Homo sapiens: one gene and its partners. Changing the gene in region 4 together with the main gene of any one other region gives a genetic interaction. Each region holds a gene or a part of one and is shown on either strand. Other genes may lie near its edges.

Region 1 (5,066 bases), on a different chromosome or scaffold from region 4:
TAATACATTTTGAGGAAGGGCTGCCTGCTTGCTCTTTACTGTAAACTACATTTGTTCTTTTTCACAGATTTTTAATGATTAAAAATAATTTTTTCAAAAGTAAATCGGTACTACCAATTGTAGAATAAATAAATTATAACTTCATTCATATAATGGAATAGTGCAAGCAATAAAAAAGAACAAACTACTGGTACAAGCCATGAGGGAATCTCAGATATTATGCTGGAGCTAGAAACAAAAGAGAAAAAATGGTATGATTTCGTTTATAAGAAGTTTAAGAAGAGGAAAAATGAAGAGGAAAATGATGACAAAAGTGGTTACTATGGTTACTGGCAGTGGGCACAGACTGGAAAAGGGCATAAGAAACCTTTACTGAGTGCCGCAAATGTTCTAGATCTTGATCTTTGTGGTAGACAACTGCATAGATATGTTTACCAAAAAAAAAAAAAAAAAAATCACTGAATATTTAGGCACTTCATACATTTTACTGTATGTGTATTTTATCTTGATTTTTAAAAGAATCTGCAAAATAGTAGTCTCTCAGCCTTGGCTACACAGTACAATCATCTAGTCTATAGCCATACCAATTATATAAATACCTTTGAAGGTAGGACTCAGGCATCAGTAATATTAAAGCTCTTCAGATGATTACAATGTGTGGCCAGAATTGAGAACCACTGCTAAAGTGCTGAAGAATATGGGCTTTGGCATCAGAGAGAGCTTCGTTTGAACCCAAGTCTGCTACTTATTAGCTGTGTGACCCTGAAAAAGTTAGCTCTTTAAGCCTCAGTTTCCTTATCTATAATATAATAATAGTACTTACCTCATAGGGATAAATTAAGATTGAAGGAGACACTGAATATCAGTGCTTAGCAATTATGCCTGTTAAATGATGTTTAATAAACATTAACTATTATCATTACCCTTCAGATGCAGTAAGGGTAATGACAGTAAGACAATAAGATAGTAAGATAATTTTTATAATTACATAAAATTATACTAGCCACAACATATTAATGTGAATCAATTAATAAACAGCAATTAGTATGGCTGTGAATATATAAAACCAACTGGCCTGTGAAAGTTGAGACCTACATTTTAATCAATTTGCGCAAATACATTTAATTTTGTTCATTAGACATTTATTGCACTTCTGTTATGTGCAATGCACAGTGCTAGGTGATGTAGGGGAACAAAAAAATCAATTAGATGGCCTATACAAGATTTCCACTTTGCTTATTTGTCAGTACGTTTGCTTTATAAAATCTATCTGGTGGAAACAAGTTTCACAGTGAAAGAGCTACTCATGCTCAGTTTCGACTTACAAATGTATTTTGTGATATTTGCTGACAGTGAATGGTATGAGAATCAGCAGTTAGAGAAGGTGCCATTTTGCCACAAAAGACTACTCACACCATTTCAAATATAAATAACTTGTAAGATGAATGTGTATTAGCATAAGTGAACTCTTACCTGTCTCAGTGTCCCAGAGCTTAAGATACCTGTCATAGGCTGCACTGAGGAACTGTGTTCCTGCAGTATTGAAGCAGATATCCCTAACAGCCTTACTGTGACCTAAAGGTGGAGTCAACAGAAACAGCAATGAGGTGAAGTATCATATATCTTCTTCTCTTAAAACATTAACACCATAAAGACAAACAGCACTAAGCAGTGGTTCTCAGCTGTGAGTCAAGATCACTGGAATGCCACCGCCTGATTTACTGACTTAGAATATGTTATGTGTGGGCTTCAGAATGTGGGCGTTTTTTTCCCCTTGAAGAAGCTCCTCAGGTGATTCTGATGCATAACATCTTGGTTAAGAACCAAGAGGAAAAGGTTTAACTTTTCTTTTAAGTCTGCCATAGCAATTACTTAATATGCAGTACATACAAGTGATGACTAGCTAGCCAAGAATTTATGGAAATGTAAAAGACCAATTATTGCCAGTGAAAGAAATGGCTGCTGGAATTTTGGAGGTTCACTCTCAGAATGTCCACCAGGCTGCAAGTGAAAACAAAGTGCCCCAAACCTAAAGTTCAGGAAACTGTAGCCCTTGTTCAATAATTGTATATTTCTGTGATCACATTACCAAATTTCATAGAAACTGATTCAGAATGTAGGAGACTTTCTGAAAACTATATTAGCTTGCATGGTTTTTTATTTTTATTTTGAGATAGGGTCTTGCTCTGTTGCCCAGCCTGAAGTGCAGTGGCTGGATCTCAGCTCACTGTAAGCTCAACCTTCCTGGCTCAAGCGATCCACCCACCTCAGCTTTTCGAGTAGCTGGGATTACAGGTGCACACCACAACGCCTGGCTAATTTCTGTATTTTCTGTAGAGACAGGGTTTTGCCATGTTGCCCAGGCTACCTTCTTTTGCTTTAAGATGATATTTTGATAATACACTAATTTTAAGGTGCTGATTATTATACTTTACTTAAAAATGAATATTGCCAGTTCACTCAACTCTTTTAAAAGTTACAGGGAAAAATAAAATGTGGCTAAACAAAAGCAAAAATGTTCCTATTTTTGCCACCCCACCATGACCAAGACACGTACAATTGTGCAAAATGAGCATGGCACAAATTGTTAACCACATGCAGCAGCTCTAAACCATCACCTCCAGTGAACTCCCATCAGGAGGTACGTGTCATGGTAATTAGGCATCCTTTTCTACAGCTGGAGTCCCAGTCAGAGCTTCTATCATCTCCTTCAGGAGGAAAATTTCAGTTTTCCACAGAAAAATGGTCTGCCAGTAGAGGGGAGACAGATGCGGACCAAATCCACTCTATCTGATGGAGACATTTTGTTCCCCTGTACACAGCTGAGAGCCTTCCACAAGTCTTCCTTTAGGCTGCGGTGACATCTTAGGCAGTATTAATTTGTGCAGGGAGGCCTTAAAATCATAAAGCACTGCTGAACAGACTCCCACTTTAATCTAAAAACAGAGCCACTACGAGTCACACCGTTTCAACGTGGTACAGTTAAATTTGGAATGAGTAACTAGCCTTCACATGAAATCTGACAAAGACAATAAACCTTTCTCTACCAAAAATCTGGTTTGTCACAAAGCTGTCCTCCCTTTGGCCTTCTTTCTTTCTTCAAGGAGTTCTCTCAATCTCATCCTTTTTTTATGCTTTAGCTGTCAATTCCCAGTCTCTCTTCAAAGCTCGACCTCTGGCTATCTAATTGCTTACTGAACATTTTTACCTCAATATCCCAAAGGCAGCTCAAATTTGGTGTATCTAAAACCTTACCATCATCTTATGTTCCTTCTTGGTGAATGGCACCATCGTTCATCCAGCCTCATGGGAGTCACTCTAGATTCCTGTCTCACTGTGATCATTCACATGCCGTTACTAAATCTCACTGACTTTAACTCTAATACGTAGTTCCTTTCTTTTCTCTCTCTGCTGCTTTGGTTCAGGCGCTCATCATCTCTAAACCAGACCTATGAAATAACTGTGTAATTAATTTCCCTTCCTCCAGGCTTGCCCTACCAAATCATCCTGCATATTGCCATTTGATCTTTGTAAACTTCAAATCATGTTGCTTTCCGGCAAGAGCTCTTTAATGGTTCCCCAATGCCCTCACAACAGAGGCTAAACTCTTTATTAATGGCACAGGAGGTCTTCCATACTCTGGTCCCTCTCTTGCTACTTTTCTCCGCTTTTGTCTCTCACCATCCCCCATACTCTGACAATCCTGAAATGTACGTGGATCCCCTCAGCAGCACGCTGTCTCACACCATTTTTGTTTTGCATCCGCTGCTCTTGCTTCCTAGTTCTCTTTCTTTGTCTAACTGGGGACACTGACTCCTCCTTCCAGATTCAGCTGAAATCTATGAAGAGTTTACTTCCTATCGGTGTAGTAAAGTTATTGTCAATGATGTTATCTTACTTTAAAAATTCTTCCCAGATTTATGTTGGAGAGAAAAGAAGCATTACCAATAAATGTTCTCAGACAGCGCCGTTCTCCATAAACCTCCCATAGCTGGGGGAGAAAAAAAACAACACATGGAAATATTACATTTAATAAAGGTCCTTCAATTAATAACAACAGCCCTATGCTGGTTATGTGTGTGCACATCTGTGTGTGTAAACGCACAGCTTCAATCATTAAATATTAAACACTGAATATCATTAAATATAGCTTGGTGCTGCCAGTTTGTGTTATATTATTTGGAACACACACACACAGAGTCACACACGCTCAAAACTAAAGAGTTTTAAAGATATTTACATCAAAAAAGAGACTTAACTATAGATGGAGTTAATTCAGGTAAGTTTTCATTTTCATATTGTTCTTTTCTATTTCATACATTTTCTAGGATGAAAAGTTTCTACTTTTGTAGCACTACAAATGACGTTTAAAGGAATTGTTATTAAAACTGCCATGTATATAACATTTTGATACTGAAAGCCTTTTCTGTTTACTTTTCTGAATAACAAGTATTACAGAAGCTGTAAGAAAATGATGATCTAGACTAAAATAAAAGGCTCATAATTCTCAGCATATCTAAGGTGGATTAATACAATAGCTTCAAGGCTAGCTTTATTCTTGACTGCCTTGAATCCAATTCTCAACAATGTTGCTAGTACTCTAAAATAGAAAGCATTTCCTTGCCACTGGTGCCAATAGGACACAGTCTCAGTTACTGTAGCATACTAGGAAACGACCTCTGAGACCTGGTTTCTTGCTCATGACTGCAATCATTCCTTGTCTCTTAGATGTTATGCTCCAGCAAGCACAAAACTGTTATTTTCAGCACACACCATGCTGATCCATTCTCTTTTCAAGCATACTCTACTCCTGTTTCCTCATCCTTTACTTAGTTAACCAACTTACTAAGGTATGCTTCCTCTTTGAAACCAGCATATCTTGTGCTTGCCTCTATAATAATCATTTATATCATAATAAAATGATCATCCTAAGGGGAGGGACAGTGCCTTTATAAGCTTTTACTTTCAGTCCCCTGCACATAATAGAATGTTTATAGAAGTGAACTAATTGAATTCTATGCTTTTTTGGTTGGTCAAAGAAAAGACCAACATCTCAATTAACATGG
Region 2 (5,066 bases), on a different chromosome or scaffold from region 4:
ACCTCAAGTATTCAGGGCTGATTTAGTTCATGCATAAATTAAGGGGTCTATACCCTAGGTCCCTTCTAAGGGCTCATCTTCTATGAAAATTATTAATTACTAAAGTACTAAAAATGATCAATTATCTACATCCCAGGGGCTTCAACATGGATTCAATTTGGGATACAGATGCATGGTAATACCAGCTTTGCCAAAATGTAGTCCAACTTTTCAGCTGCAAAAATTAATCAAAGCACAGTTAACCACATTCTTAAACCCATCACAGCCTGTGCCTATTGTGTGACATACCTTTTCTCCTACTTTACATATTAAAGATTCCAAATGATCTTCAGTTTCATTTGCATCAGAGGTCTTTCTCCTTTTGTGAGGCTGCCCACCTATTTCAGCAACATAAAAAATTAACATTACATGATAAATCTGCTATCACAAATTTTATTTAACCTTTTTAGGTTATAATCTCTTTTCTACCAGGCCCTATGTTTTTACAGAGTAGAAGCTCTTCACAGACCCTCCATTTCTCAGACTAAGCTAGATTAACCAACAGCCTCCCATTCCCAGAGCCACTATATACAATAACTCCAGGAGGCATTATTTATGTTAAATTTTGTGTGAGTAGTGCCCATGGAGCTATGCAATCAGCAGCCCTGTCCATTTCTGTGGACAAGCTGGAAAGCTGCCAACAACATGTTAAACACTAGTAGTTAGAATACTCATGTACCGCTACTCCCATTCTTTTAACTTGAGTTGTTTACTGATCCTCAGTTGCTTGTTCCGAAACCTGTTAGTACCAGTAGTATTCATTAGTCTAATAATGTATTATGTAAATGACAAAATAAGGGTGCAAAACCAAGTCGAATGCTTTGGAAAGACTTGATCAGAAAAAAAAGCTGTCATATCAGCTATAAAGAGGAAAGCTTCAAAAGATGGGAAAAAGGAGCATAAAACATTAGGATTTCTCACTTGCTTCACATGTTTCTAAGCTCTAATCTCAAGTCTTCAATTAACAATTTCAGTTCTGCATATGATGCAGCACAACGGTATAGTTTATCCTAAATAATGGGAACGACAGTCAGTATACGTATATTCAAAGAAAAGTCCTGAGCACTATATCAAAAAATTGGTGGAAAAAAGGACCACGTTTTACAATTCCTGCTTTAACTAGCTTTTATTAACTGAATTACTGATAACTGCTTTATTTAAAAACCATATCATTCGAATAATCTCTATGTTTTTTAAATCTACCATTCTAAAATCATTACCAAGCATCTGTCTTTTTGATTGCTCAACAATTCAAGTTGAATGAAGGTGTGCTAAAAATTAACCTCAAACACCTGTCTATTAAGACCCTTGCTGTTTGTATCTCTTACCACTTTGTTTAAAGCCTTAACACACTCACCTAAGTCCTTTTGTGGTATAACATAAAGCTTAAAAAATTAAAATAATAGTGTTAAGTATGGAACCTGATGCTGCTGCTAAACACTTTGGCTAGTCTAATACAATCCAATTTTCGACTTCCATTGATTCAATTATTTGGTCGGCATATGGACAAGAAAGCAAGAGCCTGTAACTGTGCAGGGAATCGGTATTAATAATGAAAATCTGCAGTTGGATATATGGTTACACAGTAGCAAGTTACATATAACTTCAATCTTCAGATCTGAACAGCCAAAGGAATTATTGTTACAAAGTTCATAATCACTTACTTGCCTATGGAACACTTGGCTTGAAAATGATGTATGGTGATTCTCATAAAACACAGCACCTGGCTATTCTAAGCTTGGAATGTTAAATCTATTGAATGACTGAAATGATCTTCAGATACCACATGAACTGAAGCTGAATAAAACGAATCTATTACTATCCACATAGGATCTGAGGGGGGGTATTATAAAGGTTACAGGGTAAGACACTCTGTACGTCAACTTCCCAACCCATTAATTACCATGATAACCTGACTGAATGTCCACTGACTATAATTTTGAAAGGATAATGCCACAAAAAGTATAATACGCATGCAGCATGAGAGCTGAGATGTATTTATTCCTGGAGATATCTGCCTGTGTAAAGTTGTAGACATGTGTGGCACAGAGGTTCAGGGACCTTGATTCTTAAGTATAGATCAAACCTAAGTCACAGGACCTATCAAGGTTCCACCACCCAAAGTGCCAAATTTCACACAAAGGTCTTTCATTTCCAGGATTCACTTATTGAAAAAAAGCATAATTGATGTAATATTTACGCAAGCTGCCAGCTAGGACATTCAAATAGCCTTCTTCTACAGCAGTAGTTCTCAACAGGGTGTAGATTTTGCCCCCAGTGGTCATCTGGCAAACCTTGGAGACATTTTTAGTAGTCAAAACTAGGGGAAGCAACTGGCATCTAGTGGGTAGGGGCCAGGCATGCTGCTAAATATCTCACGTTGCATAGGGCATCTCCCAAAACAAATAACTGGCCAAGAATGTCAATAGTGCTGATGTTAAGAAACCGTATTCTAGAAAGCAGAGCTCCTCAGAACCAAATTTCAGTGAGGTTGGGAGAATGCAGATGCTGAAAAACTAGCTGAATGAGAGCAGTTATTTTTTGTTGCTGTTTTTTAAACCTTAAGCACACTGTTCCCTTCTTTCTGGCTCATCTATTTTGCCAACCCTTTATTCCACCTCTACAGTCTTCCTAACTTAACTTTCCAGCTGGCTTGTTCCAGTTTGGAATCATACCACAGCCTTTAAAGCAACCCTCCTAGGCCCTCTTATAAGCTTGAAAAGGGGAAAATAGTGCTGTGGGAAGAGAAGGTATGATTTCTGAGAAACAACTAGAAAATACATGTACATAGTCACATCTCTGAACTGCAAACCCTTTGTTCATTTTGGCTATATTAAAGGACAATATTTGTCTGGAGAATGGGAGGAGGCAGAAAGTATTAAGAGGTAAGAAATGTTCCACTTTCACCTGATAGTTGAGAGACTATAAAGGGGTGAAGACTACAGACAAAATCTGAACTTACGAACAGAAACATGATATTGAACTCATAAGACAACCTGGGTAAGGGAACAGGGAAATGAAATAAAACAATACGAATACAATTTGGGGAATTCGCTCAATGTACCCTGAAGAAAACGTATCTATGGTAGTTCCCAAGGCAAGAACAGATTTTTTATTAAAATTTAACTATGTAAAAGTTTTAAAATGTAAATTAAAGATAACATTACCACTTCACTCAGACAGACTTGGCTAGTATAGAGAAGCAGGTATAAAATCCATCTGAAAGGATCTTAATAAACCAAATAAATTTCCCCTCTATAAGTCAATCCTAATTTTATACGGGTACACTGTACATCTTATAGCCTTACAAGAAATTTTAGACCCACAAAATGGAAAACAAAAACCAACCCTGTAAAATAGAAAAGTAAAGTAACTAAAACCAACAACTTCAACATTACGTTTTTAAACCTTAAGCACACTGTTCCCTTCTTTTTGGCTCATCTATTTTGATATTGAACAACTTGAAAGATAACATGCCTTGAGCCCGCAGACTTAAAACAGGCAACCATCACTTCTGAAATAAACTATACTCTCTCAAAATAACAAATCCTTTCACTTCTATTTTTTTCTTTAGTTAAGTAAAAAAATCAGCCACAGTCCAAAAGACAAGGACCTAATTCTAAGAAGCTTAAATGGGGCTAATACAGCAAATCTGAAATTTTTGTAAATTGCCCAAATTCCCAAAATTGTATTCGTATTGTTTCTAGCTAAGATTTTGAACAATCTAAATACTTTCTTAAAAGAACAAACAATGGACTGCATATCCCATAGTAACTAAAAAGCTTCAGAGACATTTTTAAAGCAAGTCTAAGCAATTAGTTAAGATTTAGCACTGGACTAGTATCCATACACATTACTTTCCATTTAGCATTTCCTTTTCCTTGTTTATAAATGGACTACTACATGAACTTCATTGGTATAGCCTCCTAATCCTACCCCCCTTAATCTTTGATAGTCGAGTCTCAACACAGAAGTATAATTTTATAATCTCCCTATAAGATGCAACCCTCTGCTATCTCTCTAATCTTATCTCCTACAACTTCCCCCTCACTCACTCTGCTCCAGCACCACTGGCCTCCTTGCTCTTCTGTTAACATGACAGGAACCCTATAGTCTTCAGGCTTTTGTGCCCATGGTTACCTTTGGATCACAGCTTTTCCCCATACAGCTATATGGCTGCTACCTTACCTCCGGCAAGTCTTTGTTCAAATGCCATTCACACCGAAGCCTTCTCTAATCAACTTACATAAAATAGTAACTTCTCCCTCACAGAAATCTCTCCCCTCTTTACCTGGTATCACTCCATAGCGCCTGTCACTATATGATACACTATACTTTACTTGACTGTCTTCTCTCTACTCTAGAGGGGAGGCTCTATCTTTATATTGTCCACTGCTGTATGGCAAGTAATTAGGACAGAGCTTGGCACTGTTAAGTATTTGTTGAATAAATGATTTTATATATATATATATATATATATATATATATATATATGTATTACTTTCCATATGCTTGCTTCTATATATACAGTATATAATTATATGTAAAATATATATTAGAGTATATATTTATATAAAACTTATAATAAACAAACTTATATAATATATAAATATAAATTTATAATATATAAATATAAATTTATATAATATATAAATATATATAATACATTCTATTATAGTTTATATATATACACACACTCTATATATAGAGAGTCAAGCATACGGAAAGTCAGGGCAGTGACTGACAGCAGCTGACAATTGTCCAGAAATGCTCAGATGCATCTATTTAATTCTGACTGTAATAATTCCTACCCTATTTTAAAATAGCCTTCTATAATCCTTAAGCTTCTAAGATTTATTTTTTAAAAAATAGATTTTTAACTAAAAGGAAAGCATCCAAAATAATCTGATTCAGATCACTGTGTAGGGTAAACTCCAGCGATCGTTATCCAAATTGTGGCAACTGACAAAAATTTCAGATTTGCTGTATTATCAAACATGAATTGTATCTGCCTCTCCCACACTAAA
Region 3 (5,066 bases), on a different chromosome or scaffold from region 4:
ACAGGGAAGCAGCTTTGCCCAACGGTCTCAGAGGCTTTGTAATCTCCCTACAAGAAGAGAAAAACCTAATGCTGACAGCCTCCACAGTTCTCTCACCACTACTCCATCTCCCTCCAAACCAGGGTATCCAACCCAGCCATTTCCCTACCACCTTTCCTCTGGTCTTTACCTCCCCTGAATTCCACCCAGGGGGACTTACCTGAACAGCTCCCCCATGGGCACCCCACCTTCCTGCAGAATGGGTGTTACCAGTTCCGCTAGGTAGAGCCACACGTGGGGGATGTCAATTTCCATGTCCTCAGCCAATTCCAAGATTTCATACAACCTGCCAAGGGAATTCAAAGTCAAGACATTCTAGGCCAGGTCCCCACTCTCCTTCTGGGGCAACGTGGCATGGCTAGGGCATCAACTATGGAACCCCCAGGAACATTTTCTAGACATGGGGACAATTATTTCAAGCTAAGGCCACCTCTGTGTCCTTAGATGGTTTTCACCCCGCTTAACCCCCTAAAGTTATGCTGACCAGGATGGTCAAGGAACCCATACTGTTTTTTGGTTTTTTTTTTGAGACAGTTTTGCTTTTGTCACCCAGGCTGGAGTGCAATGGCACGATCTCGGCTCACTGCAACCTCCACCTCCCGGGTTCAAGCAGTTCTCCTGCCTCAGCCTCCGAGTAGCTGGGATTACTGTGCCACCACGCCTGGCTAATTTTTGTATTATTAGTAGAGACAGGGTTTCACCATGTTGGCCAGGCTGGTCTAGAACTCCCAACCTCACGTGATCCTCTAAGGAATCCAACCCACCTTGGCCTCCCAAAGTGCAGGGATTACAGGCATAAGCCACCACACCCGGCCAGGGAACCTACACTCTTATGCAAGGTTCCAAGGGTCCCAAAAAGGAGATAGAAAATTGTGGGTCTGTATAAGTGGGAGGCCCAGAGAAGCTGGTCATACCCTTGGTAGTACTGAGCAGTAGACAGATGCCCAGCACAGAGCAGCTGGTGCAGCAGCTGCCCCATATGCTCACGAGCAATGGCACTGCGCTCCAGCGTAGACTCGACACCATGCCGTACAAAGATGAAGAGCAAGGAGGGTGAGGCCAGCTCCTGCACGCACTGGACTGCCTCCTGAGGGGTGCAGGGCACAGCAGGAAGAGACCAGTCACTGTCTGACCCAGACCCCGGACCCCTATGCCTGCCAGCATGATCCCTCCCTGCCCACTCCTCAATCACACGCCGCTCCCACTGCCTACTTTCATGTCATTGAGATGGAGATATTCCTCAATGATAGCCTTGGATTTCTTCTCTAACTCCTCCTCAGAGAGAGCCGCCTTCAGGGGGCTCACTGGGGGTAGGGCAGCTTCTCGCTTCACTGTGGGAAGAGAACACAGATTAGAGGGACTTTTCAGTCTTCCCAGCAAACAAGATTTGGAGCTCTCAAAAAGCTGGGGACCAGCTAGTCCCAAGGCAGCCAATGCCTTTCCCTCCATTCCTCTCCCAGACTCTCACCGGCATCCCGCCCACGGTCCCGATCCTCCGTGAGGCTAGCTGCCTTGCGCAGCCCCTCAGGCTGGGAGGGCCGTTCTCTACTCCGCTCCTCCACTTCCTTGCTGAAGCTCCGCTTGGTAGCAGGTGTCCGCGCACGATCAAGCCGGTCCCCACGGTCCCCTCCCCGTTCACTCCGCTCTAGGCGGTCTCCTCGGTCTCCAGCTTTCTCGCCTCGTTCTCGGCTCAAGCTACTCCTGGAAGACAGACAGACAAATTTTCACTCACTTGCACTGCCCAGGCACTCATGTAATTACACAACATGCTGAGCAACTGTTGGGCCTTGTTCTTAGCATAATGAGTATGCCCCAATCTAACCCAAGGGCTCCAACCAGGACAGGTATGAAGAAATTTCCAACCTATGGCAACAACCAGAACCCAATCACGGTACCCCCAGTGTGAATAACAAAGATGTCCAGGAAACCTCACCTCTGCACCACACGTCTATTATCTGTGCTTTCTGTGGGTACCGCTTGTTGAAGGGCTGAGAAGCGATTCAAAGTACTAGTAGCTGGGCGAGCAGCTTCTGATGCTGGGGATGCAGAAAATCCGTATTAAAATCTTTTTCTCCTTTCCTGCATTTTATCCCCTACTTGCCAGTTTAGGACACTTGGTCCCAGTCCCAAAAGTAAAGCAGTTCAATCCCTGGAACCACAACACAAACCTCCTCTATTGCCCGCATTGCCTAACCACCTTGTACTGAAGGCCTCCCTAACAGAAAAGGCTCTGTCCTCAAGGGAGCTCTGACGGGTAACCACCCAGCTCCTGACACTGCCTCCATACCTGCGTCTGAGGGCTTGGCTCCTGAGCCTCCGCTGCTGCCCTTGCCCCAGCTCAGTCGCCCTCCAGGTGCAAAGAGCTGGTTGTTAGAATCGATGGAGCCAGGCTGAAGAAGAAAAGGGGAGTAGAATCATAGGTCCAACCCGGCTGAGTCCCTTGGCCAGCACCACCATATGCAACCAAACAGGTAGTGAATGGCCCAGTCCAGGGGTCAGAAAATCTTTTTTAATAAAGGGCCAGTCTCTATTGCAACTACTCAATTCTGCCACAGTAGCATGAAACCAGCTGTAGATGATAAAGGCATGCTGTGACTGTGTTCCAATAAAACTTCATGGACACTGACATTTACATTTTATTTAATTTCCACAGCATAAATTACCATTCACTTTTTGATTTTTCGCAACTTTAAAATGTAAAAACCACTACTGGGTCCTGGGATGTATGAATGGGCTGGATCTGGCACGTGTGTGTGTGTGTGTGTGTGTGTGTGTGTGTTTGCCAAACACTGGTCCAGACTAATGGGAGTACCACCCTCCCTCTACAGCTGGCAGTCCTGTCTCCAGCAATCCAACCAGTTAGTCTAAGAGGAAACATTCAGCTGTCACCTTCTCAACTTTAGAAAAGTGAAGGGACTAAGATCTAAACCTGAGCTGAATCACCCACTCCCACACACACCCCTACCTTGGTGATCTTGGTGAGTCGTGAGGTGTCAATGGGGCGGCTACCTTTGCTGATGGGAACTGTGTTCCAGCCACCATCATCCACAAGGGGAAGTCCACGGCCTGACACAAAAAGAGGGGCATACTGGAATAATGAATAAATCCTAGCAGCCCCTTCCCCTTGGGCCACCCCCAGCCTCCCTTCCTCAGATCCTCAGTTCCATCATGGTGTCTCAGTGGCCCAGACACGTGGCACTAACAGGAAGTCATCAGAGGAAAGTATAACCTCCCGGTCCCTTCACTGCTCCCTTCTCAATCCCAGCTTGGAACTCACTGATGGGAGGGCCTGGAGGACCGCCCCGACGCTTGTCACTGCCCTTGGCCATGAGCTGCTGCACTTTGATGTGCTCTCGATGTTCTTCCATCTCAGCCTCCTTATGGATCTGGTCAATGGTCTTGGGACCCTGATCCCCTCGGCGTGGCACCCAATTGCTCTGTGGAGACAGAGGGCCAGTCACGATGATGTCAGGGAAGGCAAGACAAGGCAGTGTCAGAAACTGGAGGCAGCAGGCTGGCAGTGGGGAGGAGGGGGACACACACCCCTCGCAGATCCAGCACGTCCTGCAGCATAAAGCGGATGCGGGATGACGTCTTCTTTTCTTTAATGATTTTTTCCATCTGGTTGAAATACTGATCCATTCGGGGCTAGGAAGGAGAAAGGCATCAGACCAGGAACTTCTCATGTCCCACCTATAACTGCAGGCCCCACCCCTCCTCAGGCCTTCCGCCCCATCATTGTGGGCTCAGTGAGCCCCACATATGCTTCAGCCCATCCCCCTCCAGATGCAAGGACCTCTACCTTGGCTTTTTCAAAGTCCAGGTCTTTGCCAATGGTGGTGAGCAGACGACAAAGGCACTCAAGGGACTCTTCATCATGGTTCTTAAGCAGTTTGACCACACAGTCATGCATTATTGCCTCTGTTAACATCTTCAGTTTGAACAACTCTCCAATAAACTTGATATTCCCTAAAGAGCGCCGCCGGGCTATGTCCCGAGCCTCTTCCAGCTCTTCCTTCAGGCGTCCTCGTTCCTCTGCCTGCCATTCACAGGACAGGGATTGTGTCAAAAAGATAACCAGCCACTCGGCTAAAACCCTTTTCTACCTGGATATCCAAACCTAGCAATAAGCACTCAGTCCTGAGGCCGGCTGGCTGGGCATAGTGGCTCATGCCTGTAATCCCATCAATTTGGGAGGCTGAGGCAGGCGGATCACTTGAGGTCAGGAGGAGTTTGAGACCAGCTTGGCCAACATGGTAAAACCCCGTCTCTATTAAAAATACAAAAAAATTAGCCAGGTATGGTGGCACATGCCTGTAATCCCAGCTACTTGGGAGGCTGAGGCAGGAGAATCGCTTGAACTCAGGAGGTGGAGGCTAGCCAAGATCACACCACTGCACTCCAGCCTGGGTGACAGAGCAAGACTGTCTCAAAAAGGAAAAAAAACGTCCTGAGCCAGAGAAATCCCCAAGACACCACTACCTCCATTCCAAATTCTACAGCTGAGTAGCATCTGGGTAAGGGAAGGAGGTAAGTGGTGAGTGGAATCGATAGTGGGTTTTCTCTCACCGTAGCAGCTTCATCCATCTCTTTTTGCTTCTTCTCAAAAACCTCATCATCATCTTTGTCTTTCTCAAACTCCTTCTGACATCGATTCAACAACAGCTTTCGGAAGTTCACAGTCACTGTTGGCTTTTCCGTAGTGGGCACTTTCAGCTGTAGGTCAGAGAGAATGTCACACTCAAGACTAGTCCTGGGCAGGGAAGGCCCTCCAAGAGCCTTTAACTACCTGACCCAGGAAGATCTCTGGCCCCAGCTCTGCCTCCTTCCAGCTGGAAGAGGCACAAGTTGGAGGGGAACCAAGAAGCTGGACTCAAGGAGTCTTGGGAATAGGAATGGGCAACCAGACCATTAGATTTAGAACCCACTGGAAACTAACCGCCATGAGGCAGCGGCACATGTTGGCATAGGCCACAGAGAAGTTGGGCTCTGAAATGGCCTTCTCAAAAATGAGGTCAATGACCCCT
Region 4 (5,064 bases):
AGAATTTGGAGGAGATATTTACAGCTTTAAACATTAAAGCTCTGAAAAGCATTTTGCTGATTGAAATGGGCAGGGCATTTTCCTGGAAGATTCAAACGCGGAACCAAGTTGGAAAGAGATGAAGACTAAGGATGGAGAGGAAGAAGCAAGGGTGAGGTCACGGAGCAGGGCCTGAAGCCGGCTCAGCGAGGGAACACCTGCCAGTTCTGCAGAGGAAATCTGCCGTCATCAGTTTCTCCATCAGGCCTTTTGCTCAGATGTCTTCCAAACAGTGCTTTAAACATTCAGTCAAAAACTGAGTCAGTCTCAGGCCAGCTTAAAACTAAGCCAAAACTAAAGGTCTGAGAATATAAAGAGTGGAATTGTGGGTTTTGACTATGAACTATAAACAGTAAAACATTTATAAGCTCCTTTAGAATATGCAATGCTTTACTGAGATGGCTGTCTACATTTTTAATATTTGGGAGATAAACTTACAGAGAAATTTAATAGAAGGCATTATCACTTGAATGTTGAGCGAAGGCAATTATGTAAGGGTTGGGTTGGTAATTCCTGATGGAGAGACTCTTTGTCTCAACAATAAAGGATCCTGCTCTGGTCACCCATCATTAGCAATGAACTCAATAGCTACAAAATACCTTCCTATTCAAGGTTGAGGTGAGATTTTTTTTTTTCCCACAGACTAAGTTTAACAAGCGTGCTTCAGTTGAATATTAAAGCAAAAATATCCTAAGTCAGGAGGTCAAAGAGAAGCTTTACCTCACAATCTTGGGCTAGGAGGGAAAAACTGAAACAAAGCAATAGTCTCTGTATGTGTGTCTAAATATGTTTTGGCAATCAAATGAAAATGCATATGTAAGTGCTGTATGTGAACTCCAAACACACATTTAAGCAATTTATAGTGTACTTAGTAGCAAGGAAAAACATGAGTACAAATTGCAATCTAATGACATACAAAAATATGCTAAGGAGCATAGACTATTTGGCCATTAATTAAAATTGTCAACTTGAAGATTTAAAACAAGTCCTTAAAACTGGAGAAGTCTACATTAAATTTGTAAAAATGTAATTTATCTCACAAAGATTTCTGAGTTAGCCAGATCAGTCACTGACATAATACAACAAAGTTAAAGCTTTTGTTATGTCTTGCTGACCCTATCTTTTAAAATCTACTTCTTCATTGACTTCTTTGTCCTTTGGTTTGGACATCTGATTACAGAAATAGTTTTCTGCAAAAGTTAATTTTAAAAAACCACGCTTGGTCAAGATTTTCAAAGTTGAAATACTGCAAAATAACAACACAAAACAGAGTTTTAAAAGTTTAACTTTATTTTTTTTTACTAAAGTTCAGAAATTTCTGTAAGACAAGTACATTAATGAAATGTTTCCAAAGAAATACTGAACAATATATACTCTAGTTTGCTGAGGTTCCAGCTCGAGTTCAAACCTAATTCTTGTGCAATAAAAATCAGCATGGATCTTAGATGATCTAGAATACACTGTGTTTTGAAATCCACAGCTGGTTTCATTTTTAACCATTATGAAAAACCAGTACTCCTATTCCATCAAATGTGTTTTATAAGCAATAATAAATTCAGATCCACTGTATTATGCAACATACATCTTTGGAAAGCAACATAAACAGTGAGATCAGATCAGTAGAAATATACACAGTTAAAAGAAATACACAAAGTACTGTAGTTTTATTAAAAACTACTACTTGAGAAAGAAATCTTTCCACAAATAGCATAAAACTGTAGAATGATGAAAGGATTTGGGAAAGCTTTACAAAAGCTTAATTCCAATTGTATCTTCCTGAGGGTGGTGGCAAAGGGTATTTCCTTCCTTCTCTGGGATATCCCTGAAAATAAACAAAAGAAAGAGTTTATTTTCTGGACCGATACTCCTGCAAGTCAGTTAACTTTAAACCTCTATGGAAAAACACATCATAAGGAAACTGAGTATGTGTTAAAGGTACAGCACATGGAAAGGCCCCATAAAAGGTGCTTTGATCCAGAGCTTTAATACAGACTTGTTGCAAAGTTGGAGGCTAGCACAAATGCTATTACTGAAAAATAAAACAAAAAACCTTAACAATCACAAATGCACACAAATAACTAAAGTGTTCTGTGTAAACAACATGTACAGACAGTGGTTCTCAATTTTCTCACTGTCCTAGCAGTAGTAATTCAAGTCACTTTGTGGTAAGATACCCACATCAATTTAGACTTATTACACAAGGAAAGTAACTTTGCTTTAACCAAGGCAAGAGCTTGCTAAGTCAGTTAAGGCCAAATGAGCAATTGATTTTAGGGATTTTTTATTTAGCAACAAATAGTAGGGCTTTAAATGACATATTAAGGTTATTACACAATCCATTAGCCGTGACCTTTATAACATATCCTAGTATGTTTGCAAATAACATTTCTGTATAACAAAAGATAAACCTGACACCTCTTCATTATAAGTCCTTTCCTAGGCCTCTAGGGTTTTGAAATGGAACCCCCTCCCACCTCATTTTGCCACCCAGAGAGCACTTCAGTACTTTAAACATGAACATGTGCAGACTCAAGGCCAGAATGCAGGCTAAGGCCTTGTTTGGTCATATAAAACTTTACTAAAAATACAATGAAGTAATGATTCTATGTTTTTAACAACAAACTTCTGCAATTTAATAGTGCTTCAACAATTGTGATTTAATAAAAAGTATCTCCCTGGCAAAGGGACTGAGAAAGAAGAAATGTTATTTTCAAAAAGTCCTAAAAGAATAATAAATTTACCAATTGGTTTATATCTTCTAAGTAAATAAGAATTTTACCTCCTGTAACAGCACAGAGTTCCTTTAAAAGGAAGATCTCCAAAGGAGAGAGGAAAATGGATGAACTGGGGTCAGCAGTCTAGGCAGCCAGCTACCAGTTCTCCTGCTGAACCGTGTGGGGTTTTCAGGGTTTCAGTTCCTGACTTGGAAAATGAGGTGACTAGACTACACATTCTCCAAGGTTTCTTCCAGTTACAAATAGTCCTCACTTCAAAAATGCTCATCACTGAAACGGCCTAGTGCCATCTAACCATAGTAACATAAAGAGCCTTAGTTCACTGACACGATTTTTAGAGGTCCTGGGCTGAAAGAATTCAAAGCAAAATTCGATAAACTGATTCAAATAAACTGTAACAAAATCTCAGAAGAAATTATTTGCAATTAAGGTGATTATCTTCTTGTAAGGTGGAGATACTTGTAAGAATACATCAAAAAACATACAAAATATGTTCCTTAGCTGTGAGAAGAGAGGTCTTACTAATTAATATGTGAAGCACTGCAAAAGGCCTGGAGGCAACACCAGGTAAGCAATTTAAAAACCACTTCACATCACTGCAGGTGCCAAACTCCATACACATTACTCTGAATCACAGCATTCTAATCTTGTTCTCTAGTAAGGATTCCATTAAGAGCATGTAAATACTGGCCAGGGTGTCAAATTGCTGGAGGAAATTATGTCAAATAGACCTCAGTCTTAAATGCTGCTAAAACTGGATGCTGTAAAGAGAAGGACATGAAGCTTACATATACTAAATTTGTCTAGGAATTATGATAGTCATTCAGTGATACAGCTGCTTACATTGAGAAGAAAAATATGTGGAAGATTATCAAGCAGAAATTTCTTTTATGAGGAGGGATATCAGATGAATCAAGGCAGGAGACTTCTAAAATGACAACATTGTAAAATGACTTCTAAAAGACAACAGCTGAAAAAGCAGACTTACTTTCCAGCTTCCAGAAAATCATCACCCATTAAGAGGGATCTAGGTTCTATTGAAGAACAATATCCTTAAAGGAAAAACAATGTGTTTTGGTGACTGACTATACTTGGACTAATTATCACTGACTGCTATGATTTAAAGGGCTTTTGGGTTAGAAATTCTTTGGCATCTTCAAGGTATATAACCTATTTAGTGAAGCAGGTACTCAACCCATATACATTTTTAATGACAGACCCAAGTTCAGCCAAGCTACTCTAAGCTACTCTATCAGTGTCTTCTCCAGAAATGTTGGTAAGAAAATACGGAGTCCTGTGAGGCTTGTTGAAATATAAAGTGAGCAGTATACTTTTCATCCCACAACCATTTACCTGTCTCCCTCCACGATCATCTCGTCTGGGTGGATACCCACCAGGCCCAGCTAGCATCTGGTACTGGTTTGGCTGGAAGGCTGCATTCTGGGTTTGCAGCATCCGGTTCCATGGGAGCAGAGGTTCAGCCCCAACGCCTCTGTAGGAAAGTACCAGTTTTACATCAGAAGCCACACCTATTATACAGCACAAAGCCTAAAATCGGCAGGTATCATCTCCAAATTTTAGTACAATCCAATTTACCTGGATTTATCATATGGGATACAGAGTATCAGAATGGCCTTTGTGTCCCTTATATCCAGTATAATCTAACATGTTTCATGAAGCATCAGCATTTATTACAATGGATGTTTAAACTCAACTGAGAAGTTCTGACTTTTAAAAGTTATTTTGTTCATTTTCAATTGGGAAATTTCCTTTTTAGTCACTTAAAGATGTAGACCCAAGATCACCAAGATGGCTACATTTAAGATGCTATCCAAAGAGTAAACATGTACAAGACAGGAGAATGAGGCTTTATTTTCAAAAATGTCCAGACTCGTTCTTGGATCCATTCTTTCTACTTAATTGCAGGTTGCAAATGAATTCTTACTGCTGAGTATTTTGAATCCAGGGTAGGAGACTTGGCTGTTTTTTCCCATCCATTATTCTGTTCAATATGTCAGAAGGTCTGATTGGGAGGAAACCTTTTCAAGTTCTATTGATGCAGCTTTCAATTGACCACGGTGACCTAGCAACATGAGCACTAATTGGCATGGGCTGACTGGCATTTGGTGTACAGTTTACATGGGAACACAGATTCAACGGCTATTATAACCCAGTTTGCTGTCGCAGATTACTAGTCGAAAGAAATGTTTTAATTGTCTTCAAGTGACTATTTTAACTTTGCAGATGCAAAGCAACAGGTATAATGTACTAAATCATAACTTAATTAAAA

The links. A genetic interaction does not mean that the proteins touch.
Region 1: changes in XRN2 (region 4) and CDC40 together harm fitness more than expected from each alone (negative genetic interaction), as found in Homo sapiens cells (one large-scale study listed by BioGRID).
Region 2: changes in XRN2 (region 4) and NCBP1 together harm fitness more than expected from each alone (negative genetic interaction), as found in Homo sapiens cells (one large-scale study listed by BioGRID).
Region 3: changes in XRN2 (region 4) and EIF4G1 together harm fitness more than expected from each alone (negative genetic interaction), as found in Homo sapiens cells (one large-scale study listed by BioGRID).

Annotation. Positions count from the first base shown.
Region 1 is NC_000006.12:110,214,211-110,219,276, reverse strand, and holds part of CDC40 (pre-mRNA-processing factor 17), read right to left. Parts: intron 3,992-5,066; coding exon 3,946-3,991; intron 1,576-3,945; coding exon 1,474-1,575; intron 1-1,473. UniProt on the Homo sapiens protein: Required for pre-mRNA splicing as component of the activated spliceosome. Plays an important role in embryonic brain development; this function does not require proline isomerization.
Region 2 is NC_000009.12:97,636,105-97,641,170, reverse strand, and holds part of NCBP1 (nuclear cap-binding protein subunit 1), read right to left. Parts: intron 378-5,066; coding exon 289-377; intron 1-288. UniProt on the Homo sapiens protein: Component of the cap-binding complex (CBC), which binds cotranscriptionally to the 5'-cap of pre-mRNAs and is involved in various processes such as pre-mRNA splicing, translation regulation, nonsense-mediated mRNA decay, RNA-mediated gene silencing (RNAi) by microRNAs (miRNAs) and mRNA export.
Region 3 is NC_000003.12:184,323,890-184,328,955, reverse strand, and holds part of EIF4G1 (eukaryotic translation initiation factor 4 gamma 1), read right to left. Parts: coding exon 4,979-5,066; intron 4,756-4,978; coding exon 4,609-4,755; intron 4,079-4,608; coding exon 3,842-4,078; intron 3,688-3,841; coding exon 3,583-3,687; intron 3,477-3,582; coding exon 3,317-3,476; intron 3,261-3,316; exon of another isoform or gene 3,185-3,260; intron 3,106-3,184; coding exon 3,005-3,105; intron 2,430-3,004; coding exon 2,327-2,429; intron 2,076-2,326; coding exon 1,973-2,075; intron 1,741-1,972; coding exon 1,508-1,740; intron 1,371-1,507; coding exon 1,252-1,370; intron 1,127-1,251; coding exon 954-1,126; intron 326-953; coding exon 200-325; intron 48-199; coding exon 1-47.
Region 4 is NC_000020.11:21,386,070-21,391,133, reverse strand, and holds the end of XRN2 (5'-3' exoribonuclease 2), read right to left. Parts: intron 4,267-5,064; coding exon 4,128-4,266; intron 1,862-4,127; coding exon 1,796-1,861; 3' UTR 1,309-1,795; downstream 1-1,308. UniProt on the Homo sapiens protein: Possesses 5'->3' exoribonuclease activity. May promote the termination of transcription by RNA polymerase II.